3 separate regions of the Homo sapiens genome follow, and all the other regions are linked to region 2. Evidence: fine-mapped expression QTL. A gene starts in region 2. Each other region holds a variant in brackets. All regions are shown on one strand. Distances are between the middles of the regions. Region 1 holds the start of DPEP2 (dipeptidase 2). Region 2 holds the start of SLC12A4 (solute carrier family 12 member 4). Region 3 overlaps NFATC3 (nuclear factor of activated T cells 3).

Evidence for each region.
Region 1: its variant is fine-mapped to the expression of SLC12A4 in whole blood (TOPMed, PIP above 0.99).
Region 3: its variant is fine-mapped to the expression of SLC12A4 in whole blood (TOPMed, PIP 0.99).

The regions. Positions count from the first base shown.
Region 1 is chr16:67,997,355-68,007,594 of GRCh38, forward strand. DPEP2 (dipeptidase 2) reads right to left here and starts at 2,130. Exons shown (of 11, transcript NM_022355.4): 1 at 2,021-2,130. It also overlaps the pseudogene KARS1P3. RefSeq lists enhancers at 553-1,069, 9,232-10,005. The variant A/G (reference allele first, on the strand shown) is at 8,052.
Region 2 is chr16:67,961,886-67,973,283 of GRCh38, forward strand. It overlaps SLC12A4 (solute carrier family 12 member 4), which reads right to left and starts at 6,752. Exons shown (of 24, transcript NM_005072.5): 1 at 6,554-6,752; 2 at 1,580-1,674. The coding sequence starts at 6,668. RefSeq lists silencers at 3,151-3,322, 5,645-5,704, 6,215-6,544, 6,675-7,004 and an enhancer at 4,368-4,886.
Region 3 is chr16:68,137,109-68,142,108 of GRCh38, forward strand. All of the region lies in intron 3 of NFATC3 (nuclear factor of activated T cells 3), which reads left to right. Among named protein-coding and RNA genes, the nearest start is that of NFATC3, 54 kb to the left of the region's middle. The variant A/G (reference allele first, on the strand shown) is at 1,955.

The sequences.
Region 1 (10,240 bases), 35 kb after region 2:
TTTATTTGTTTATTTATTTTGAGATGGAATCTCGCTCTGTCGCCCAGGCTGGAGTGCAGTGGCACAATCTCGGCTCACTGCAAGCTCCGCCTCCCGGGTTCAGGCCATTCTCCTGCCGCAGCCTCCCGAGTAGCTGGGACTATAGGTGCCCGCCAACACGCCCGGCTAATTTTTTGTATTTTTAGTAGAGACGGGGTTTCACCGTGTTAGCCAGGATGGTCTTGATCTCCCGACCTCGTGATCCACTCACCTTGGCCTCCCAAAGTGCTAGGATTACAGGCATGAGCCACCGCGCCCAGCTCACATTTTTTAAAATGGAAGAAATAGGTATGGCTTTTCTGTAGGGAATGGGCTGGAGGCCAGGAGATCAGGAGGGGTAAGGAATGAAGGGGCCTGTAAGGGGGAGAAGCAGTGGGAACAGGAAGGAGACATTCCTGGGACATGTTTGGAAGTTGAACCCAGGATTTGGAGATGCTTTGAAGCAGGGTTGGTGGGAGACAGTAAGGAGGAATCAGCGGTGACACTTAAGGTCGGCTCTGGAGTCAGGCCCTGAGTTTCCCCGCCTCTGCCTTGTTTCCACTCTGCCCACTGCCAGCATCTAGCTAACTTAGACTGTAGCCTCTGACCCCAAATTATCCCTGTGCTCAGGTCTGTGCCACTGATATTGGCAGCTCCTAATGAGAGGTGACAGCGTGCTGCCAGTCCTCACAGCCCTCGCTCGCTCTCGGGGCCTCCTCTGCCTGGGCTCCCACTTTGGCGGCACTTGAAGAGCTCTTCAGCCCACCGCTGCACTGTAGGAGCCCCTTTCTGGGCTGGCCAAGGCCAGAGCCAGCTCCCTCAGCTTGCAGGGAGGTGTGGAGGGAGAGGCGCGAGTGGGAACCGGGGCTGCGAGCGGCGCTTGCGGGCCAGCTGGAGTTTCGGGTGGGCGTGGGCTTGGCGGGCCCGCACTCGGAGCGGCCCGCGGGCCCTGCTGGCCCCGGGCAATGAGGGGCTTGGCACCCGGGCCAGTGGCTGCGGAGGATGTACTGGGTCCCCCAGCAGTGCCAGCTCACAGGCGCTGCGCTCGACTTCTCACCGGGCCTTAGCTGCCTTCCCGGGGGGGCAGGGCTCGGGACCTGCAGCCCTCCATGCCTGAGCCTCCCACCCCCTCCATGGGCTCCTGTGCGGCCGGAGCCTCCCCGGTGAGCGCCGCCCCCTGCTCCACAGCGCCCAGTCCCATCGACCACCACAGGGCTGAGGAGTGCGGGCGCATGGCGCAGGACTGGCAGGCAGCTCCACCTGCATCCCTGGTGCGGGATCCACTGGGTGAAGCCAGTTGTGCTCCTGAGTCTGGTGGGGACGTGGACAATCTTTACGTCTAGCTCAGGATTGTAAATACACCAGTCGGCACTCAGTATCTAGCTCAAGGTTTGTAAACACACCAATCAGCACCCTGTGTCTAGCTCAGAGTTTGTGAATGCACCAACTGACACTCTGTATCTAGCTGCTCTGGTGGGGCCTTGGAGAACCTTTGTGTCGACACTCTGTATTTAGCTAATCTGGTGGCGACGTGGAGAACCTTTGTGTCTAGCTCAGGGATTGTAAACGCACCAATCAGCACCCTGTCAAAACAGACCACTCGGCTCTACCAATCAGCAGGATGTGGGTGGGGCCAGATAAGAGAATAAAAGCAGGCTGCCTGAGCCCGCAGTGGCTACCTGTTCTGGTCCCCTTCCACACTGTGGAAGCTTTGTTCTTTTGCTCTTTGCAGTAAATCTTGCTACTGTTCACTCTTTGGGTCCATGCTGCTTTTATGAGCTTTAACACTCACCGCGAAGGTCTGCAGCTTCACTCCTGAAGCCAGCGAGACCACAAGCCCACTGGGAGGAACAAACGACTCCAGACGCACTGCCTTAAAAGCTGTAACACTCACCACGAAGGTCTGCAGCTTCACTCCTGAGCCAACAAGACCACAAACCCACCAGAAGGAAGAAACTCCAAACATCCAAACATCAAAAGAAACAAACTCCAGACGCGCTACCTTAAGAGCTGTAACACTCACTGCGAGGGTCTGCAGCTTCATTCTAGAACTCAGTGAGACCAAGAACCCACCAATTCCGGACACACTAAGACAAGATTTCACTAGTGTGTGCTGTTTCCCCTGCAAGGGGGAGGGCACAGAGATGGCTTTGGGTGAGGTTAGGGGGAGGATAGGCCTCCTGGTTGGCTAACACTTGTTTACTTCTGGGGCATGAGTGTTCATGTGAGCCCACGATGCCTGGCCTGTTCCTCTTTTAACAAAGTCTGGTAGGACATGGTGGCTCATGCCTGTAATCCCAGTAATTTGAAGGTCGAGGTGAGAGGATCTCTTGAAGCCGGAGGTTTGAGACCAGTCTAGGCAACATAATGAGAACTCTAAGAAAAAGGAAAAAAAAAAGTGGTGCATGCCTGTGGTTCCAGGTACTTACGAGGCTGAGGTGGGAGGTTCGCCTGAGCCCAGGAGTTTAAGGTTGCAGTGAGAGACGATGGCACCACTGCTCCCTAGCCTGGGCGACAGAGTGAGACCCCATCTCTAACAAAACGAAAACAAGATCCAATGCATCCTCCTGCCTGAAGTTCTTCCGTGGCTTCTCATTGCAGAAATCTACCGAATTTCTTTCTTTGGCTTTCAACTCATGGAGAGTCTGCTCTCACCAGCCTCTCCAGTCTCAGCAAATAGCACAAACTTTCCTGTCCTCCAAAATCTGGCCACCTCAGTGATGCTACGTCCCCCCATAGAGCCTTGGCACAACCTCAGCCTCCAATTGGTAGGGCTGTTGAGGCAAGGCCAGGATAGGAAATCTTGCTACCAGGAAGGAGTAGGTGGGTGAACAGCTTTTCCCTCTACTTCCTCTTCTATGCAGTGTTTGCATAAATCAAGACCTGCAGAGGAGGCAGCAGTAGAAACAGTTTGCTCCAAGGACCAAACTTATTCTGGTGTGCAGCTCACTCGCCCCTACTCATCTCCAGTGTATTTCAAGAGTATGCAGGGAAGGAAAAAGTCAGGCTGAGTTATAGCTGCACAGGCTGCCTCCCATGCTCAGAGCGCAGAGGTGGGGTGCAGCTGGGGCTTACTCAGTATCCAGCAGTGCCCAGATGATGATCATCTGCATCCAAGCCCCTCTGGTCCTGGAGACTCATGCTTCCCTTTGATGTCGCCCTGGATCTGCTCCCATGATGTCTGATACAGACAATTCCCAAGAAACAATAGTCTTCCAAGCCAGAAAGCAGCCTGGCCACTGTAGACAAACATCCTCCAATCACCAAGCTGAAGCCACCCTTCCTGAAACGTCAAATAGCTAACATAACATTTTTCTTCCACAAAAGGAAGTCAATGTTTATGTTTCTAGGAGAAGTGCAATAACCCCAAATGCATCTTTATCTCCTGAATGCATCTAGAACCTTCTGCTCAAGCCTTACCAACCAACCCCTACCCCGCCAGCCTCTCTGTCCAACATTCCTGGGGTGCTTTTTTTTTTTTTTTTTGGAGTGCGAGGGCACGATCTCGGCTCACTGCAACCTCCACCTTCCAGGTTCAAGCGATTCTCCTGCCTCAGCCTCCCAAGTACGTGGGATTACAGGCATGCACCACCAGGCTGGCTAATTTTTGTATTTTTTTTAGTAGAGATGGGGTTTCACCATGTTGATGAGGCTGGATTGTCTCGAACTCCTGACCTCGGGTGATCCACCAGCCTTGGCCTCTGAAAGTGCTGGGATTACAGGCATGAGCCACTGCGCCCGGCCTTTTTTCTTTTCTTTTTTTTTTTTTTTTTGAGACAGGATCTTGCTCTGTTGCCCAGGCTGGAGTGCAGTGGTGCCACTTTGGCTCACTGCAACCTCCGCCTCCCAGGTTCAAGCAATTCTCCAACCTCAGCCTCCCTAGTAGCTGGGGCTACAGGCATGCACCACCATGTCCAGCAAATTTTTGTATTTTTAGTAGAGACGGGATTTCACTACATTGGCCTTGAACTCCCGGCCTCAGGTGATCCACCCGCCTTGGACTCCCAAAGTGCTGGGATTACAGGCCTGAGCCACTGTGCCTGGCCCTGGGTTGCTTTCTGATGGAGACGATTGATGACTTGGGTCCCATGTGTACCATTGAGTTCCTCTTGCAGCTGGGTTCTGCCTGATTTCAGACAGTACAGAGGATCTGGGACAGAAGGCTGCATGCTATCCCATGTCCTTGAGGTAGTGCCATCAGCCGAGGGTGGGGAGGAGGCAGGAGGGCCCTGGGGTGCAGGAGCTGGATCCAGCAAGGCCATTAAAAGTATCTCAGGGGACAAGAGATGGTGGCTCATGCCTGTAATCCTAGCACTTTGGGAGGCCAAGGCATGAGGATTGCTTGAGGCCAGGAGTTCAAGACCAGCCTGGGAAACATGGTGAGACCCCTTCTCTACAAAAAAATTTTTTAAAAAGTAGCTGGTCATGGTGGCACATGTCTGTAGTCTCAGCTACTCAGGAGGCTGAGGTGGGAGAATTGCTTGAGCCCAGAAGTTAGAGGCCACAGTGAGCTATGGTCGCTCCACTGCATTCCAGCCTCTGGGAAAGAGCAAGACCCTGTCTTAAAAATAAAATACCTTTTCCGAAACATTTTTTGTAAGATTAAAAAAAGAGAAAAGAAGGAAGGAAGGAAGGAATAAAGAAAAGAAAAGAAAAAAATTTTAAAAGGTTGGGTATGGTGGCTCACGCCTGTAATCCTAGCACTTTGGGAGACCAAGGCAGGTGAATTGCTTGAGCTCAGGAGTTCGAGAGCAGCCTGGGCAACATGATGAAGCCCCGTCTTTATAAAAAATACAAAAATTAGCCAGGTGTGGCAGTGCACACCTGTAATCCCAGCTGCTTGGGAGGCTGAAGCAGGAGAATCGCTTGAACCCGGGAGGCGGAGGTTGCAGTGAGCTGAGATCGTGCCACTGCACTCCAGCCTGGGCAACAAGAGCGAAACTCTGTCTCAAAAAAAAAAAATTTCCTTTTAGAGACAGGGTCTCACTGTGTTGTTCACTGAAACTTCAAACTCCTGGGCTCAGGCAATCCTCCTGCCTCAGCCTTCCGAGTTGCTGGTGGAATCTGTGAGAAACATGGTGACTCGGTCAATAACCATGCCCCAGGCAGTTGTGGGGGACAGCCTGTATTCCATGGCGGCAACAAAGTTTTCATCTACGGACAGGGCCTCATCATCACCTGCGGCCTTAGCCTGTTCTTCAAAAAGCTGCCACTGCTGCATAGGATCATTTAGATCAGTGTAGGCATTGCTTATCGCTTTCTTTATGACAAATAGCTTAAAGCGCTGGGTCAGACCTTTTGAGTAGTGCCATTTAGCCAAAGGGCTCATTATCTGGGGGTGATCACAGATGAATGTAGAATTGTTGCAAATCACTTCCAGGAACTCCCCCAACAAGCTTGTCAAGGAGCCTGGCTGTGGTCCTAGGTGGAGGGCACGCAATAGCATTTGCACGCAGATATTATCAAGAATTTTGCCAATTGCTTCAGTTTCAAATAGGTTATTTTCTGGCAGCTTCACCCCCAGGGCTTTCTCAAGCTCTTCTATCATGCTGATTCTCCGGAAGGGTAGGGTGAAGTCAATATTGCAGGCTTATCCCTCTGGGACATCTGGGTAGTAGGTGACCTTGTAACTACCTGTATTATGCTTCACCATCCCTGGAACCATCTTCCCCGTGATTTCCGTGAGATTGTGATAGTCTAGGCCATGTAGAACTCAGGGGTGCTGAACTCAGGATTTTACGTCAAATCAATTCCTTCATTCCAGAACTGGAATGCAATTTCATAAACCTGGTCAATGCCACCAACCACTAGCATCTTATGGTAGAGTTCTAGAGTAGTTCATGTGCAGCTTGTTGTGATAAGTGATGAAAGGCTTGGTCATAGCTCCCCTGGGATGACGTTCATTCATGGGAGTTTCAAGCTCTAGGAATCCCAGCTCATCCAAGAAACTTTTTTTTTTTTTTTGAGATGGAGTTTTCTTGTTGCTCAGGCTGGAGTATAGTGGTGCAATCTTGGCTTACTGCAACCTCCACCTCCTGGGTTCAAGTAATTCTGCTTCAGCCTCCTGAGTAGCTAGGATTATAGGCACCTGCCACCACGCCCATCTAATTTTTGTATTTTTAGTAGAGGTGGGGTTTTACCATGTCGTCCAGACTGGTCTCGAACTCCTGACCTCAGGCAATCTGCCTGCCTTGGCCTCCCAAAGTGCTGGGATTACAGGCGTGAGCCACTGCACCTGGCCTAAGAAACTTATTATACATGTGATGATCTTACAGCAGATGATAAATTTCTGCCTCATTCATTCAGGATCAAGTCCAAGTATCTCTGACCATACCTTATTTCCTTGTCTTTGAGGCCAAAGTGAAGATGAGGTAACATATACAAGCAAGGCCACAGCAGTGTGATCTCATAGGGAATGAAGCTCAGCTCATCCTTCTTGGTTTTTCCCAGGATTCCTCTGAATTCCAATTATGTTTCCCCAACGCAGTTTGTTATTAATATGAATAAATTATTCTTCCTGAAATTATAATTCCTGAAATTGGCCATGACTTGCAACTTGACCCCCTCTGCTCAAAGATCATAGAAGTTCATGGCTGGGCACTGTGTCTCACGCCTATAATCCCAGCACTTTGGGAGGCCAAGGCAGGCAGGCAGATCACCTGAGGTTGGGAGTTCGAGATCAGCCTGACCAACATGGAGAAACCTCACCTCTACTAAAAATACAAAATTAGCCGGGCGTGGTGGCGCACGCCTGTAATCCCAGCTACTAGGGAGGCTGAGGCAGGAGAATTGCTTAAACCTAGGGAGGAGGAGGTTGCAGTGAGCTGAGATTGTGCCATTGCATTCCAGCCTGGGCAACAATAGTGAAATTCCATCTCAAAAAAAAAAAAAAAAAGATCATAGAAGTTCAGCTTTCCTCCAAAAGCTTTTTTGGCATGGATCCTATCTGTCACGTTTAAGGTGATATCAGTCAGGAGATCCCCAGTTTGCAGGTGACAATATTCTGGGATGAAGTCAGTGAGGGAGATGTCTACATGGATCTCGTTGGGGTATGGGTCTTTCCCATTGACCTACCTGACTGCAAATCTTTTTTTTTTTTTTTTTTTTTGAGACAGAGTCTCGCTCTGTTGCCCAGGCTGGAGTGCAGTGGCTCAATCTCAGCTCACTGCAACCTCCACCTCCCAGATTCAAGCGATTCTCCTACCTCAGCCTCCCAAGTAGCTGGAATTACAGGCATGTGCCACCATGCCCAGCTAATTTTTGTATTTTTAGTAGAGATGGGGTTTCATCATGTTGGCCAGGCTGGCCTCGAACCCCTGACTTCAAGTGATCTGCCTGCCTCAGCCTCCCAAAGTGCTAGGATTACAGGAGTGAACCACCGGGCCTGGCCTTGGCTGTGGATCTTGTAGTACTGATTTGGGTCCAGGCTCTCCTCCTCAGGACCCACACCATTGTCAGTGGTATGGTTGGTGGCAGCAGCAGTGACCTGGGCTTAGCTGTTTCTCACTGAGCTCTTACTGCTTGGCTGCCTTCTCTGCCACTTTCTTCTCGGCTTTCAGGTATCTCTTCGGCTTGTTCTTGCTCAGTTTTGACTCACCACCATCCACTTTAACCTTGGCCCCTTGTACTGCAGTCATCTTCCCAGAGGGCCTGGACCCAAAATTGTGTTTTTTTTCTTTTTCTTTTTTTTTTGAGATGAAGTCTTGCTCTGTTGCTCAGGCTGGAGTGCAGTGGCGCAATCTCGGCTCGCTGCAACTTCTGCCTCCAGGGTTCAAGGGATTCTCATACCTCATCCTCCAGAGTAACCAGGAATACAGGCACCCACCACCACTCCCAGCTAAATATTCACATTTTTAGTAGCGATGGGGTTTTGTCATGTTGTCCAGGCTGGTCTCGAACTCCGGGCCTCAAGTGATCCTCCCACATCAGCCTCCCAAAGTACTGGAATATAGGCATGAGCCGCTGTGCCTGGCCCTGTTTTTTGTTTTTTTCACGTGGCCGTGTAGTTAAGGAACCAGCCTTATCGTGTGGGT[A/G]AGAAAATTGAGCAGCTGGTCAGATGAGGGGTTCCTTCAATCCCTCCACTTCCAGCTGCTGCCTCTAGGAAAGGCCTCAAATTCCTTACCTCAGCTTCCTGGGATTACAGGCGCACGCCACCATGCCTGGCTAATTTTTTTATTTTTAGTAGAGACAGGGGTTTCTCCATGTTGGCCAGGCTGGTCTCAAACTCATGACCTCAAGGGATCTGCCCACCTCAGTCTCCCAGAGTGCTAGGATTACAGGCGTGAGCCACTGTGCCCAGCCTCAAATTCCTTACATCTATCAGTTTGTCCGGGCATCATTTCCTGATCACCCACTGGTGCTGGCCATTTGCTGGGGTGTGCAGTGAGGTGGCTGGATAAGTCTCCAGCTATCACATGTGCTGGCATAAGCACATGGGGGTGGAGGGTGGGCTCTGTAGAGGCCCCCAAGATCCAGGAGCCAGTGCTGACCAAACATCTAGACAACATGTGTGATTTCACATTTAACCTCAAATTCAGACTTGCTGTCTCTTGCTTAACCTTGTCTGCTGATCTCCGAGGGCTATCAGACCTGTTTCTGCAAAAACACAGTGAAGTCACAGCACACCCTGCCCCGGAGCTCTCTAAGCTTCCTGTTTTTATGCAGAAAGCCTGCCCTCCTGTGAAGCTGACCATGTGAGATCTCACTGACTCCGCATCTGGGTGAATCTGAGAAGCTTAGTTAAAAACAACAACACAAAACTTTTTTTTTGAAACTGTATCTCCCTCTGTGGCCTAGGCTGGAGTGCAGTGGTGCCGTCATGGCTCACTGTAGCCTCAAATTCGGGGCTCAGGTGATCCTCTCACCTCAGCTTCCCGAGTAGCAGGGACTACAGGGTGGTGCCACCACACCCAGCTAATTTTTTTTTTTTTTTTGGTAGAGATGGGATTTCACCATGTTGCCAGGCTGGTCTCAAACCCCTGGTCTCAAGTGATCCTCCCACCTTAGCCTCCCACAGTGTTGGGATTACAGGCATGAGCCACTGTGCCCAGACCAAAAAACTTTTTATAGGAAAAATTGCAAATACATGAGAAAGGAGAGAGAAAAGTGTATTAACTCCCATGTAGCCATCACCCAGTTTCAAAGATTACCAACTGATGGCTCATCTTATTTCATTTATGCTCTCACTCACCTCTTTCTACAGATTATTTTAAAGCAAATCATAGACATCTATTTCATCCATTTTTAAGTATGCCTCTCTAAAAGGTAAGGGCTCTTTTTAGGCTGGGCACGTGGCTCTTGCCTGAAATCACAGCACTTTGGAAGCTTGAGGTGGGTGGATCACCTGAGGTCAGGAGTTGGAGACCAGCCTGGCTAACATAGCGAACCCCATCTCTGCTAAAAATACAAAAATTAGCTGGTTGTCGTGGAGGACACCTATAATCCCAGCTACTCAGGAGTCTGAGACAGGAGAACTGCTTGAACCCAGGAGGCAGAGATTGCAGTGAGCTGAGATCATGCCACTGTACTCCAGCCTGGGCAGCAGAGAAAGACTCAGTCTCTAAATAAATAAATAAATAAATGGTAATGGCTGTTTTTAAAAGACAACTATAAGCCAGGTGCACTGGGCCATTCCTGTAGTCCTACTAGCTATTTGGGAGGCTGAAACAGGAGGATTGCTTGAGCCCAGGAGTTTGAGGCCAGCCTGGGCAGCATACTAAAACCCTGTTTCTGAAAAATAAAATAAAATAAATAAATATATAAATAAATGGCAATTACCATACCATTATGACCCTTATAAAAGTTAACAGTACTTTTCTTTTAAAATTTGTAGAGACAGGGTCTTTTTTTTTTGAGACAGAGTCTCCCTCTGTTGCCCAGGCTGGAGCGCAGTGGGGTGATGTCGGCTCACTGCAAACTCCGCCTCCTGCGTTCACGCCATTCTCCTGCCTCGCCTTCCGAGTAGCTGGGACTACAGGCACCCGCCACCATGCCCAGCTAATTTTTTTGTATTTTCAGTAGAGACGGGGTTTCACCATGTTAGCCAGGATGGTCTCGATCTCCTAACCTCGTGATCCACCCGCCTCGGCCTCCCAAAGTGCTGGGATTACAGGCATGAGCCACCGCGCCTGGCCGAGACAGGGTCCTGTTTTATTCCCCAGGCTGGTGACGAACTCCTGGGCTCAAGCAGTCCTCCCTCTTTGGCCTCCCAAAGTGCTGTGAT
Region 2 (11,398 bases):
ACGTGGCACTCAAAGGCCCAGCCCCGCGGCTGCTTCTCTCTACCCCGCCTTGGCTACAATCACTGCCAGCCCATTTGTGAAAACCACCTGCCTCAGGGGAGAGAGGGCAGGGAAGAACACGGCTGGCAGGGGGGCAATGGCATACTTCATCCTGCCTGCTCTGCCCAGCCACCTCCTGGCTATGGCTGCACCTCTAGGACTCACGCCTACCCTCCCCACAAAAAAGCCACTCTAGTCACCTCAGGGAACCAAAGAGGGCAAAAGAGTGATGTCTGGGACAAGTGAAGTCTCCCTTGTCTGCCCAAACCCTGATCTCCCTGGATGGTCTTCCCCTGACCCCAGTCCTGCAAGTACCCACATCAATCGCGGAGATGGGATCCTGATCCTCCAGCCCATCCTCAGGCGGGGCTGGGCCAAGGCCTTCACCGCAGAACCTTGCTGCTTTCCCAGGTCAGGAGGCCTCCCAGAGCTCAGGTCCCCCAGCCCCACCGGGGTCTAGGCGATGATCCCTGCTCCTGCAGCCTTCTCGAGGCTGTGCTTCTACCTGCCTCCTGCCCACATTTAGCTTTTCCCTCTCTGTCAGCTCCTTTCTGACCTACACACAGGGAGAAGTTGCTTTGGTGTGAGAAAGGAAGACGAGGGCCCTTGGGGGCATGTGGAGATTAAGGAGCCTCGGCCAGATGTGGTGGCTCACAGCAGTAATTCCAGCACTTTGAGAGGCTGAGCAGGAGGATCACTAGAAGTCAGGAGTTCAAGACCAGCCTGGCCAACACGGTGAAACCCCGTCTCTAAAAACACAAAAATTAGCCAGGCATGTGGTGGGCACCTGTAATCCCAGCTACTCGGGAGGCTGAGGCAGGAGAATCGCTGAGCTTGGAAGGCAGAGGTTGCAATGAGCTGAGATCGCGTCACTGCACTCCAGCCTGGGGCGACAGAGTGAGACTCCATCTCAAAATGAAGAAAGAGAAAAAAAAGGCAGATTAAGGAGTCTCCATTACTCAGCCATGCAGTGGCTGAATGCATGGGTCAGAGTTTAGGAGCTTAAACTACGTCTTAAATCCAGATCTCACTGCTCAGCTTGAGTCTGAAGAAGATAAAACTCAAGTACAGAGGCAGATATTTGGGAATCTTTCCAGAGACGTATCCCCTAAAGCTGCAAATGGACCAGGACTCAGGGAACTAGAGAGGGACAGAGCTGGAAGGGTCAACCAAGAAAGACAAGGAAGAATCCATGGGAGAGCGAAGAACCATGGACTTGGAGAAGAACCAGGAGTGGAAGGAAGAGGAGAAATCCTGAGTTGGGAAATCCTAAGCGGGCGTTTCCTTGCTGAGGGGTTGTAAGGAAGTCAGAGGTGAACCACCCTGGAGGTAGCAATGGGGGTGGGATTGTGAGTGGCCTCTGGAAAGGCAGTTTCAGTTGAAAGGGCCAAGGGAACTGCAGCCCGGCTGCCATGAGAACCAGGAACACAAGAGGAGATGAGAGGAAGAGCAAGACAGAGGAGGCCCACGTGTCCAGCCTGCCTGCTTAGCTAAAGCCTCTGTGTGCCAAACCTGTGGCCCAAAATGGCTCCTCAGCTACCTCAAACAGTGCCAGGTTCCTGTCATAGTAGTCAATTCCTCTGGAAGCCTCCAAGGGGGAAAGAAAAGGGCTGCTCTCTCTGTGGTTGCCATGTCCTGTGAAGAGAGAGGGACAATCAGGGCCTGCTTCCTGAGCCCCCCAGCCTGGGCCCCTTCCCAGAAAGCCAGTCCCCAAATCATTTCTGTGGAGCACTTTGGAGCTGCAGTGTCACCAGGTTGCAACTCAGTTTTCACATGGCACCGTGCCAATGCTCTTGAAGGCCCAGGGATAGCCAGAGAGAGGCCAGTGACCAAAACCTGGGACATCATTCCCTCCAGTGAAGGGAATCCAGGTGAGGGCGCAGGCGCCCTAGCACAAGCACGTATGGACACTGAGGGACGGGGCCTGCAGAGGGGCGGGGCCAGCGTTTGACCCGCCCCCAGATCGCCTCCACGCCCCAGTCCCTTTCCCGGTCTTTCCGGAGTACCCAATGTGCAGGATGCCAAGGGTTCGGTGTCCTCAGGGACCGCCCAGGCAGTGCCCTCCAGATAGACGAAGCCGCACACAGCACCTTCGGCTGCCATGGCCCAAAGGTGGCCGGCTGGCTACCCCACCATGCACTGCGCGGGGGGCGTCCTGCAGGGCAGCCCGGGGCATGCCGGGAGGTGGGGCAAGCCCCAGGCCGTGGAGAGCGGAAGTGGATTCCAGGAGCCTTCTAGGGTTGCCTAAGAAAGTCGGACGGGTGGGTGTCGGACTGAGCAGGGAGAAAAATGGGAGCTGGGACTGCTGGCAGGAGCAACACAATGGCCCCCTTGCCCGCAGATCCCGCCGCTTGCCCCAGGCAAACCTCCGCCTACAGCCCTAGGCTGATGAGCCAGTGCCCCAGCTCTGAGAAATCTCGCCAAAAGGAGTGAAATGCTCCTTTTCAATAAGCCTGCCTCAACTCCCAAAGCTCGACTGTTTTTTCTGGCCTCCTATCATTCATTCTTCCCTGTTTTCCAACTCTTGTCCCTTATGAGTCTCGGTGGGTGCCATTCCCAGCTTCCCACCAAGCAGAACGCCAAGCACTCGTTTTCTAGGTGCTGAGTGTTCCCTCCACCCCAGCTACCCTCGCAGCCCCGGCCCTGGCTCAAGGCCTCACAGCAAATGGAAAGCACACATCTTGGTGTTGGATGGCAGCAGTATGTAGTTCTGACATGAGAAGGACTGGCATGGTGTCCAGTGATGGAGATGGCAACAGAACTGTCACCACCAGCCCAGGCTAGTGGTGTGATTGGGCCATGCACTGGCCATGCCCGCCAACCTTTTCTGTTTACATAGGCCACAATTCATTTTTCTTGACTGCAGCTGAGAATGCTGATTGAGGCATCCTCCTGTATCTGATACATCTCTTGCTATCAGCATGAGGCTTCAATTGCTTTCTCTGAGCCAACAACCACTCAGCAGGTGCTGTGCTGTGGATTCTTTATCCCCCAAGGAAACTAACAAATCAAGTGTGCCCATGACAGTTTCTGGGGCAAAGTCAGTTCTTCCTTCCCACAGCATGTGAAAGTGGCACACCTGCTACACCCAGCAACCTGGACTAGCTAAGTGAGCCAAGCAGCTCAGCCCCACATTCACATAGGTCAATGCCAATGGCACAGTGGACAAAGGCAGCCAGAGGTCAAGACAGTCCACCGTGTCATGTTAAAGCCAGGCGGGGTCATGTCGGACACTCTATGATATCTGCTGTACCCTCCATGCTTGTTCAGGATCAGAAGGAGTCCCAAGAAAAATCTGAAAACCCAGTAACACTCTGCCTCTTACATTAATGACATTAATGGCTCTTCAGTGAAAAGCCTTTGAAAATTACTTTTGGATTTTTGTGACAAAAAAAGTGTCTCCCTTTGATAAATCAGGTGCTTCATTTTGTCAGAAAATGCCAGTTATACAGCTCGTCTTACTTCTCTTTCTGCTTTGGCTGCCAGGAATCTCCAAGCTAAATTTACTCTTTAGATAAAGTCACCATCTGTCTCACCTGAGTGCTTGCCCCCTTCCTCTGCATGGTTTTCAATCTTCCTGAGAGTAACAATCACTTGGGGAGACACTTTTGTTGGCTATTTCTTCTGATTCTTTTGTGGAAGTAGGCTGGAAATCAATTATAATTTATTCTAAACTCATGTACTACAGCCTGCCCCATCACTGTTGCCTGGTCTTTCTGGGTAGACTGTATTGCTATCCAGAAAATATACAGCTGAGCACACAGCAGCTCCCCACAAATGCCTGTAAATGGTCCTCTAAGACCTAGCCTATCCCTTGTCCCTTCAGCTATCACTCTAGGATGGCTCGGGGCCCTTCCAAAAGTTGTCTCTAGTTCTCACAGCAACATTCCAGTAGAGAGCATTTACTACCTTTTAGGGACAAGGAGAGTGAAGCTCAAAGATGTTCAGAGGCAAGGTCACCCAGGGAGAAGGCCACATCTGGGTCCCAGGGTCCATCAGAGCCCTGTAGGGGCGGAGCTGCAGGTTCCGTTCCTACTACAGACTCCAGTCCATCTATGCAGCACAATCTTTAAAAATAGAGAAGAGTGCTGCAATTTGGCCAGGGTACGCATACCTAGGCCTCTGGGCATTCAGACTGCGGCAGACTGGCTTGGATTCCCAGACCTTCCCCCGTGTGACCCAGGGAGACATGCTTACTCCCTGTGCGGCCTTGGTTTCCTCTTCTATGAAGTGGAGATTGTAACACTTGTTTTTCCAACTGCCCAGATGCACTAGAAAAGGGACAGTTAGTGCCAGACGCCCAGTGGGCACTCCTCGGAGTTCCCCCAAAGCTCCCAAGGGCTTGTGGGAATGTAAGGGTCTAAGTAGTGCCTGGATGTCTGTACTGCCCTCGGCTTCAGACCTCCTGTTCTGGCCTCAGCCATTCCAAAAATTCCAGGGCAGGTCTGGACATGCCTGCCAGGCTGAAGCTGCTCAGACACCACCTGAGATCCCCAGTAAATCTGAATATGGCCTAGGCCTAGGGACTGCCTGTGAGCTACACAACTGTGTTCCCACCAGCAACTGTGACTGCACCAGTGGCAGGTGGGGATCCAGGTGACCCTCCTGATCCCTGTGTACACGGACATCTGCCTGAGGTGCCCCCTCCAGCACCTCCCTACCCCCTGCCCACAGGCCAAGGTGGGCTGGATGAGCAAGCCCATCTAGGCCTCCCAGAGCAGAGGTGTGGGCACTGAACTGGGGAAGGGGCAGGAGATAGATCTGAGGCTCACTGTGCTTTGTGCCCTCTGACCCTTTGCAGTCCCCACCAAGGATCAAAATCACTCACCGGGGCTCAGGGTGTCCCCCATCCTGTAGACAGCCAAGGTCTGGCTGGAAAGGAGTAAGAGGAGGAGAAAGAGGAAGGGAGGCAGTGGGAGGAGCTGGCCTAGCTTGCGGGGATCTAGCAGGACTCAGCCAATGTAGCTCCAGGTCCCTCCAGTCACCCTGTAGGGGCCAAGGCGTGGCCAAGGTGGGGCCAGCAGCTAGGCTCAGCTCTGCCTGCCCACTGGTCCAGGCTGATCCTGGGGATGCAGCCCAGTCTACCCTCTGGGGAGAGAGGTCCTCCCAGGGTTAGGGAAGCAGGAATGCTGGCTTTTGCTTTGACCACTTGAATCAAGCTAGGGGCAGACAAGGGCATGGAGGCTGGGGCACTCACACAGCTGTCAAGCCTGTAAAACCTCTGCAATGTCCAGCAGCCCATGCCACTGTCCTGTGCTACCTCTGCACATGGCAGTCAAGTGATACACACACATAGCCATCATTCACATTGGGCATGGATCATCTCAGTCGTGTCACCATCACAGATGGATCAGAGGTCCAGACAACGTCACCTGACACGTGTCAACCACACACTTCCTACATATCTCCATCATGATCGGTCACAGATATCACAGGCATTTATCATCAGTCAAATCACCATCCTCATCACTGTCAACCCTGCAGGAAACAGGGGCTGTGAGAATGCCCTGACCTGAACCAGCCTTCACCCTGTGATACCCACAGCTACACACTTGTACAAGCACAATTACACATGCATATGCCACTACGTACACAGACACATGTCCTCAGCCGTGTTCGTGCTCCGAGGGTGGGCCTTAACAAGAACAGCCCTCTGGGGGGCCTCCTGGGGTAGGAGATAGAGAAAGGGCTGTGGAGAGACGCGGGCACCTGGGAGGAAGGAGGAGGGAGATGGGGCTTACCTCTCGGCCCTGGCACCTAAGTTAAAGAGTTAAGGTGCTGGAATCTCAAACCCAGGCTTGACTGCCCCTGGGCAAGTTATATAACCGCCACCCCTCCCTTCACTGCTTCCTAATGAGAGTAACAGTACTTATCCCAAGGGTGATGCTGGAGGATTAAACGAGTTAACTCACTTCAAGTGCCTAGACACGTCCGGCTCCATGTGAGTGCTTCACTGAGGCCCACTGTCCCTACAGATCTACACCGGCGCACTCACGGGCAGTTACCCATAGACCCCCCAGTAGGCACACTCTGGCCAGAGTGCAGGTAGGCGCAGAGAGGCACACGGAGGGGTTTGGGCAGTTGGGGAGCGGATCGTCTCAAAGGCAAAGACGCTGAATCTCAAATGAGGAACCGAGGCGAGAAAAGGATGTGGGATTCACCGAAGTTGAAGGGCCGGGAAGGGCCTGAGATGGGGTCTCGGCCCTGTCCCCAAGCCGGGCGGCCCGGCCGGCTGGCCTCCCTGGGCGGCCACGTCTGCAGCCCCCGCCCGGGGCCCACAGGGGAGGAGCTGGGGTGGAGAAAGCGGCCGGGCGCGGGCGCCGGGGGCCGAGGAAAATCGTGTCTGCGCGCGCAGGGCGGGGAGCCAGTGGCAGCGGCGCGGTCCAAAAAAAGTTGAGTCCGCACCGACGTGTGCGCGCAAGGTCCCGGGATAGGTGCGGGCGCGGGCCCGGGATGGCGGCCCCGGGTGGCAGGCCCCGCTGCCCCGCCACGGCCCCTCAGAACGCGCCCTCACCGTCCGAGTCATCCAGCTCGGCGCGCTCCCCGTAGTCCACCCAACTGAGCCCCTCGAGGTTGTCATAGTCGCCGCGCCTCGGCCCGTCCACTGGCACCACGGTGAAGTGAGGCATCGTGCGGGCTCGGCCCCGCCGCACCCGCCGTCCCAGCCGCCCGCCGCTGTCCCCGCCGCTGTCCCCGCCGCCCCGGGCCGACACGCCCCGCCCGCTCGCATTCCTCCCCGCTGCGCTCACTTCCTCCGCCCGCCCCCCGGGCCGCCCCTCGGGGGCGGAGAGCGGGAGGGGCTCGGCCGGCTCCTCCCAGAGCGGGGGCCCTGGTGGCGGGAAGACCCCTGGGCGGGAGCACTCCTAGTGGCTCCACGGCCTGGGGGCGGGCCCGATTCCTGTGTGACCTCGGGTGAGAGGCCGCCCTCTCTGAGCCCCAGATGCAACATTTGTAAAATGGGGGAAACACACTTCCACCTCGGGGTTGTTTTAGGGCTCCGTGAGATGGGTCGCGGAGTGTCCTGGCTCTGCGCCCTGGGCTTACGAAGCGCTCTGTTACTTAGGGACGGGGCAGGGTAGGCCGGACCGGCCCAGGACTGCAGAAGCCACCTGCCCAGGGCCTCCCACCAACCCCGTATACCTCCTTCCCATTTCCAGCGTCTGCATCCCATTTCTCCGCGACCCTGGGAACCAGACCCCCGCGAAGGTCCCGTCCCAGCCCTGGGCCCTCTAGCTGCAGCCTCTCCTGTTGGAGGCAGCTGGGGATTCTCGGTCCCTCCCCAGGGGCTGCTGCGTCCTCCGCAGGAAGAACACGCACACCCACCCTTCCCCGCCCCGCTTGCCTCGCTTGCCTTTTTGGGACAGTGCACTGGGTGCTGTAGCCAAGTCCCTTCATTTTAACTTTCTCTATCTCGCCTCCTGGGTGTTCCTCTATCCAAGCCGTTTACTTATTTGCTTTTAACGTTTCTTTCACTTTCTTCTCCACTGCTTCAGATTACTTATCTAGCTGGCTTTACTATTTTTTTCTCTATCAGAAAACCCCAGAGCCCATCTTACTTGTCTATCTCCACTCTTCTCCCTCGCGTGGCTCGGGTGGCGTCCTCTGACTACGCCTACTGCCAGCCTCCAGCCCTTGGGGTGGGGGGTACGGAATCAGAGCCGCTGGGCCCCGCAAGACGACCCCCGAGCTTACCACCCTCTGACCCCTCCCCCAGGGCCCCCGCAGCGGGCCCGCCGACCTGACCCCCCCGCCCCTCACGCCACCTTCGGCCGCCCACAGTAGCGGCCTTCCTACTGGACTCCCTGCCCTCGCCCCTGCTCACGTAGAGCCGCCTCTTCTGAAGGAAAATCCTACTAGCTCCGGGCCCATAAGGCCCTGCCCAATGCGGCCGGACCCCGACCTCTGCAGGCGCATCCCTCGCCACCCACCTCGCAGCCTCAGCCCTTCAAATCTCTCTCTCTCACCTGAGACCTATAGTTTCTGGGCATCACCCACTGTTCACTCTGGGGGACATCTACCTAGCCTCTGTCCCTACCCTCACTTATCAAATTCCTGATCCAGGCCTGGCGCGGTGGCTCACGCCGGTAATCCCAACACTTTGGGAGGCTGAGGCGGGAGGATCACCTGAGGTCAGGAGTTTGAGACCAGCGTGGTCAAATAGTGAAACCCCGTCTCTACTAAAAATACAAAAAAATTAGCTGGGCGTGGTGGCGGGTGCTTGTAATCCCAGCTAGTTGGGAGGCTGAGGCAGGAGAATCACTTGAACCCGGGAGGCAGAGGTTTCAGTGAACCGAGATGGCGCCATTGCACTCCAGCAAGAGCGAAACACTGTCTCAAACAGACAAAAAACCTCCAAGGCCGGCCTGGTGGCTCAAGCCTGTAATCCCAGAACTTTGGGAGGCCAAGGCGGGTGGATCGCCTGAGGCTGGGAGTTCGAGACCAGCCTGGCCAGCATGGTGAAACCCCGTCTCTAATAAAAATACAAAAATTAGCTGGGTGTGGTGGCAGGTGCCTGTAATCCCAGCTACTCGGGAGGCTGAGGCAGGAGAATCACTTGAACCACGGAGGCAGAGGTTGCAGTGAGCCGAGATAGTGCCATTGCACTCCAGCCTGGGCAACAGAGCAAGACTCTATCTCAAAAACAAACAAACAAACAAAAAACCTCCTGATCCAGGAGGTCTTGGTGGGGAGCACCACCTCCCCTCAGATTTCTCAGACACATGCCCTGCCACCCCACCCCACCCCTCATCTGGACTGGGCTGCCCTGAGCCTTTCCCTTCATAGTTCCCATTGCAGGCAGAAATGGATTGGTGGAAATCACTGATTAAGATTCTATCTATACTGTGGACTTTGCAAGGGCAGGACCCTGTCGGTCTTGTCACTCTGGTATCCTCAAAACCTGGCTGGCCCCAACACATTTTTTTTTTTTAAGATCTTAGAGGTGTTTGTTTGTTTGTTTTAATTTAGAGAGAGGGTCTTGCTCTGTCACTTTGGGCTGGAGTGCAGTGGTGCAATCACAGCTCACTGCAGCCTCAAACTCCTCAAATGATCCTCTCCCCTCAGCCTCCCAAGTAGCTAAGATGCCACCATGCCCAGCTAATTTTATTTATTCATTTCTCATAGAGACAGGGTCTCACTTTGCTGCACAGGCTGGTCTCAAACTCCTGGGCTCAGCGATCCTCCCACCTTGGCCTCTCCTAAAGTGCTAGGATTACAGTCGTGAGCCACTGCTCCCGGTCCCAACACATTTTTCAAATAAAGAATGAACAGGTGCCCTCTTAGTCTACCTCTTTGCTCTGCAAAGTTTCCGTATAGCTCCCACCCTGGCACTGCACACCCTGCAGCCTCAGGGGTAGGGTGGGGTGTTGTGCCAGGGAGATAGGCCACTAGAGCCCAACTGACAAACACAGAGGGGACGATGGGGAACTCCGAGGCCAGTACACATCTTCTCCAATATCACAGCCATCACAGGAAAAATAACCTCACAGGCCAAACTCAAAAGACATTTGAGGAGCATAGACATTAGGCCGGGCGCGGTGGCTCACGCCTGTAATCCCAGCCCTTTGGAAGGCTGAGGTGGGCAGATCACGAGGTCAGGAGATCGAGACTATCCTGCCTAACACGGTGAAACCCCGTCTCTACTAAAAATATAAAAAAATTAGCTGGGTGTGGTGGCGGGCGCCTGTAGTCCCAGCTACTGGGAAGGCTGAGGCAGGAGAATGGCGTGTACCCGGGAGGTGGAGCTTGCGGTGAGCGGAGATGGCGCCACTGGCACTCCAGCCTGGGCGACAGAGTGAGACTCTGTCTCAAAAAAAAAAAACCATAAATCAGGAATATCTAGAATATCTAGATCGAAAATTCAAAATTCAGTTGGGAGTGGTGGCTCCCACCTATAATCCCAGCACTTTGGGAGGCCGAGGCAGGCAGATCACCTGAGGTCAGGAGTTCGAGACCAGCCTGGTCAACATGGTGAAACCCCATCCCTACTAAAAATACAAAATTTGGATGGGTGTGGTGGCAAGCACCTGTAATCCCAGCTACTTGGGAGGCTGAGGTGGGAGAATTGCTTAAACCTGGGAGGTGGAAGTTGCAGTGAGCTGAGATGGCACCACTGCACTCCAGCCTGGGCAACAGTGCAAGTTGCCTGGGCAACTGCACTCCAGCCTGGGCGACAGAACAAGACTCCATCTCAAAATAATAATAATAAAAATAAATAAATAAAATAAATAAATAAATAAAATAAAACAATTAGCCTGGCGTGGTGGCATGTGCCTGTAGTCCCAGCTATCTAGGAGGCTGAGGCAGGATAATCACTTGAACCCAGGAGATGGAGGTTGCAGTGAGCCAAGATCGGGCCACTGCATTCCAGCCTGGGAGACAGAGCGAGACTCTGTCTGAAAAAGAAAAATTAGCCAGGTGTGGTGGCACATGTCTGTAATTCCAGCTACTCCGGAGGCTGAGGCACAAGAATTGCTTAAACCTGGGAGGCGGAGGTTGCAGTGAGCTGAGATCATGCCACTGTACTCCAGCCTGGGCGACTGAGCAGGACTCCGTCTCAAAAAAAAAAAAAAAAAAAGCAGGCCAGGCACCATGGCTCATGCCTGTAATCCTAGCACTTTGGGAGGTCAAGGTGGTTGGATCACCTGAGGTCAGGAGTTCAAGACCATCCTGACCAACATGGTGAAACCTCGTTTCTACTAAAAATACAAAAATTAGTTGGGCGTGATGGCAGGCACCTGTAATCCCAGCTACTTGGGAGGCTGAGGCAGGAGAATTGCTTGAACCTAGGAGGTGGAGGTTGCAGTGAGTCAAGATCGCACCATTGCACTCCAGCCCGGGCAACAAGAGCAAAACTCCGTCTCAAAAAACAGAAAAAAGCATGTGGTGGTTAACTGCTTAATGGGTATAGGGTGGGTGCCTGGGACTACAGGCACACACTACCATGCCTGGGTCTTACATTTCTGCTTGTTCTTTTTCTTTCATTTTTTTTTAAAGACAGGGTCTCTGGTGGGCGGAGTGGCTCATGCCTGTAATCCCAGCACTTTGGGAGGCCAAGGGGGGAGGATCACCTGAGGTCAGGAGTTTGAGACCAGCCTGGCCAACATGGTGAAACCTCATCTCTACTAAAAATACAAAAATTTGCTGGGTGTGGTGGCGCGTGCCTGTAATCCCAGCTACTTGGGAGACTAAGGCAGGAGAATCACTGGAACCTGGCAGGCGGAGGTTGCAGTGAGCTGAGATCTGGCCATTGCACTCCAGCCTGGGCGACAAGAGCAAGACTCCATCTCAAAGAAAAAAAAAAAAAAAGCATAAGGGGGTTAACTGCTTCATGGGTATAGGGTGGGTGTAGGGTTTCCTG
Region 3 (5,000 bases), 170 kb after region 2:
ATTAACTTTTTCGCTTTATAAGTTGTGAATTTTAAAAAAATCTTTTGTCTTTTGTAGTAACAGTTTAAAACACAGACACGTTGTGCAGCTGTACAAAGATATTTTATTTCTTTATATCCTTATTCCATAAACATTTTTCTATGTTCAAATTTTTTATTTTTTATTTTTATTTACTTTTAAAACTTTTTTGTTTAAAATGCTGACACAAACACACACATTAGCCCAGGCCTTCACAGAGTCAGGAACATCAAGATGTCACTAGGCAATAGGACTTTTTCAGCTCTGTTGTTACCTGTGGGACCACCATTATATACGGTCTGTCATTTACCGAACCACTGTTATGTAGCTCATGACTGTACATTTTACAGGTGATCTGAGGTTATGTATGTTGTAATTGGCAGAGAGGTCTTAAGCCCAGGTCTTTTGACTGTCGTTTCTCTTTCTGTTTTACCATATTACTTCTTACACTGTAATTATCTCATAATTTCTTAGTATATTTCATTTTCCTTCTTTTTTTTTTTTTTTGAAACAGTCTTGCTCAGTCACCCAGGCCGGAGTGCAGTGGCTCGATCTCCGCTCACTGCAAGCTCCGCCTCCTGGGTTCACGCCATTCTCCTGCCTCAGCCTCCCGAGTAGCTGGGACTACAGGTGCCCGCCACCACGCCCAGCTAATTTTTTTGTATTTTTTTAGTAGAGATGGGGTTTCACCGTGTTAGCCAGGATGGTCACGATCTTCTGACCTCGTGATCCGCCCTCCTCGGTCGGCCTCCCAAAGTGCTGGGATTACAGGCGTGAGCCACCGTGCCCGGCCGTATGTTTCATTTTCTAAAACACTTTCACGTTATCTCATTTAATTCTCCAAATAAACTCTTTTAGAAAGCCTAGTCTTTGACTTAAAGTCAGATACTCTTTCTCTTACTTTAAAAAAAAATTTTTTTTTCTTTGAGACAGAGTCTCGTGCTGTTGCCCGGGCTAGAGTGCAGTGGCCCACATCTCAGTTCACTGCAACCCCTGCCTGCTGGGATCTAGTGATTCTCCTGCCTCAACCTCCCAAGTAGCTAGGATTACAGGCACCCACCAACACACCCACCCAGTTAATTTTTGTATTTTTAGTAGAGATGGGGTTTCGTCATGTTGGCCAGGCTAGTCTCGAACTCCTGACCTCAAGTAATGCACCACCTCAGCCTCCCAAAGTGCTGGGATTACAGGTGTAAGCCACCGTGCCTGGCCCCTGATAAAAATCTTAATGCTTGTTTACTATTATTATAGTTCAAGCTCTCCTTCCTTGGATTAATCATGGTAGCCTAACTACTGTAACTAATAATCCCCAATTCTCAGTGGTTTAAGACCAAAAAAATTTTTTAAAAGTTTATTTTGCATTTTCTTTCAAATTGTTGCTCAGGAATCCAAGATACGTTCATCTTTTGATGTCGTCTTTGATGCACAGCTTCTACTGTCCATGGGAAAGAAGAAGGTGTATGGAAAGCACTCAAGATACTTAACTACATTAACCTGGAAATTACTATCAATCATCACCACTTACAATTTTTTGGCTACAAGTAGTCACATGGCCCTACTTACATGCAGAAGTACTGGGAAAAGTAGTCCCTGGCTGGGCAGCCTTTCCTCATCAAAACTCTGTATTCTGTAGTATAATATAGAACTCTATACTTAAATCTTTGGTGGTTAGTGTGCCTTCTATGCCACATGCTCCACACAGGAATAAATCATGGCTAAGTCACTAATACGGGCTCTAGAGCCAGACTGTTTTGGTTGAATCCTGGATTTTACTGTATCCTTGACCAAGTAACTTAACCTTTCTTTCTAGACCTTTTATTTAATCATTCATTGCTTAATTTATTCACCTATCTATCCATTTACTTATTCGATATGTATTTTTTGATTGCTCACTACGTTATAGACAGTATTGTAGGTGCTAGGGATGCAGAGATGA[A/G]CAAGAGAGACAAAACTCCAGTCCTCAAGGGCCTTTCTCACTTTATACTGAGAGAGACAATGAGTAAATAAACAAAACATTAGAATATAGTAAGTGCTATATTGGAAATTAGTATTGATGCGATAGAGGTTAATTATGAAGAGAACTTTACCTTGGGATTTTTTCTTTATAAAATGAGAATAATATATAATATCATCTACCTAAGAGCTGTTGTGAGGAGTAAATGAAACATTGTGAGGAACATGGCATGGTACCTTGCACATTGTAAATGCTCAGTAAAAGTTAGCTAGTATCATTACTTAGGTTTCTTTGAACAGTTTGACCAACACTTCAACACTGATGAAGAGTATGTAGCAGAATAAGATATCTACATTGGCATCCTAGAATTAAGCTAGGTTTGTTACTGACATTTTAAGGAGTTGTGAATTAATGGGCTAGTGATATGTGAAAATGGAAAGTAGAAGGGTACTTAAACATCAGTTATAATGATCTTCCTGTTATTCTGCAAAGGAGAATTTCAAAAGAGCTAAGAAATTTCTGAAATACATATTTTTTGAAATGATGAGGGAATGCAAGCTGTGCTGCTGTTGGAAAATACCACCTACCTTGTAGCCAACTGACAAATTAACTTTTTCTTTTCTTCAAAATAAGTTATCTGATTCATTAATGTGGTCACCAAATAATACATTCAAAGCAGTTTGCTAATGTAGCTGGGGGTTCACTGAGGGAAATCAGACATGTTGACTACTCCCATGAACTTTATTGTCCATTGAGACTTGCAAATAAGGTAGTACCAATAAAGTATGATAAATGTTTAATGGAGGAAATTCAGATCTTTGTGAGAGCAAATACAGACCTGAAATTTGATGGAGTTGAATCAGGTACTTATTTTTTATTTCCACAAGAAAGAAGAGGGATTTTTATTTTTAAATTTTTATTATTATTATTTTTTGAGACAGAGTCTCATTCTGTCACCCAGGCTGGAGTACAGTCGTGCAATCTTGGCTCACTGCAACCTCTGCCTCCCAGGTTTAAGCAATTCTCATGCCTCAGCCTCCCAAGTAGTTGGGACTACAAGGCTCATGCCACCACGCCTGGCTAGTTTTTTTGTATTTTTAGTAGAGACAGGGTTTCACCATGGTGGTCCGGCTGGTCTCGGAACTCCTGGCCTCAGGTGACCCGCCCACGTTGGGATTACTGGCATGAGCCACTGCGCCTGGCCAGAAAGGGGACTTCTTATTTGAAGATAGTGTCTAGCTAATTAATAAGCAGACATCTAGGGAAAAGGTAGATACTAAGGAGGGAAAAGTATTAAGTAGAGGGAAGGGTTTAGAGCTGCACTGTCCAAAAGTGGAATCCAGAAGCCACTAGCTACACGTGGATATTTCAATTTAAATTAAACTGAAATTAAAAATTCAGTTATTCAGTTGCATTGACAACATTCCAAGGTTTAGTAGCCACATGTGGATACTGACTATATTTTCTTTTCAACAGATGATGTCAGAGCAACTGGATATCCGTAGGCAAGAAAATAAGCCTTGACATAAACCTTATATCTTATAAAATTAATACAAAATGATCATGGATTTTTTTTTTTAAATTGGAGATATTTTACCCAAAAGTCTGTTGAAATAAAAAAAAGGAGTATTTTAGTGACTGCAGAAAGTTATCTTGGACAGTGCTGGTTTAGAAGCCCATAAGACAGAGAGACTATAGTATGTTAATGAATTATTTATATATTTTATTTCAGTAGCTTTTGGGGTACAAGTGGTTTTTTGTTAAATGGATGAATTGTGTAGTGGTGAAGTCTGAGATTTCAGTGCACCTCTCACCCAAGTAGTGTACATTGTACCTAATATGTAGTTTTCTGTCCTTCACCCCCTCCTATCCTACCCTCTTCTGAGTCTACAATATCCATTATACCACTCTTTATGCCTTTGTGTACCCATAGCTTTGCTCCCACTTATAAGTGAAAACATACTGACTTTCCAGTGGTATTTGGTTTTCCATTCCTGAGTTACTTCACTTTGAATAATGGCCTTCAGTACCATCCAAGTTGCTGCAAAAGACATTATCTCATTTTTTTTATGGCTGAGTAGCATTCCGTGGTGTAGATATACCACATTTTCTTCATCTACTCATGGCTGATGGGCATTTAGGTTGGTTCCATGTCTTTGCAGTTGTTAATTGTGCTGTGAATAATGTATGTATGCAGGTGTCTTTTTGACATAATGACTTCTTTTCCTTTGTATAGATACCTGGTAGTGGGATGGTCGGATTGAATGGTAGATCTACTTTTAGTTTTTTGAGAAATCTCCATACTGTTTTCCATAATTGTTTTAATTTATAATTTACATTCCCATCAGCAGTGGACAAGTGTTCCCTTTTCATCACATCGATGCCAACATCTATTGTTTTCTTGGCTTTTTAATAACGGCCATTCTGGCTGGAGGAAGGCGGTATCTCATTGTGGTTTTAATTTGCATTTACCTGATGGTTAGTGATGTTGAGCATTTTTTTCATACGTTTGTGGGCCATTTGTATTTCTTCTTTTGAGAAGTGTCTGTTCATGTCATTTGCCTACTTTTTGATGGGATTATTTGTTTTTTTCTTGCTGATTTGAGTTCCTTGTAGATTCTGGGTATTAGTCCTTTATTGGATGTATAGTTTGCTAATATTTTCTCCCATTCTGTGGGTTGTCTGTTTATTGCGATGATTATTTCTTCCACAGTGCAGAATCTTTTTAGTTTAATTAGGCCCCATTTATTTATTTTTGGTTTTGTTACATTTGTTTTTGGGGTCTTAATCATAAATTCTTTGCCTAGGGTGATGTCCAGAAGTTTTTCCTAGGTTTTCCTGTAGGATTTTTATGGTTTCAGGTCTTTTAAGTCTTTAATCCATCTTGAGTTGATTTTTATATGTGGTGAGAGACAGGGATCCAGTTTCATTCTTCTACGTGTGGCTGTCCTGTTTTCCCAGAACCATTTATTGAATAGGGTATCCTTTTTTCAATTTATGTTTTTGTATGCTTTGTCAAAGATCAGCT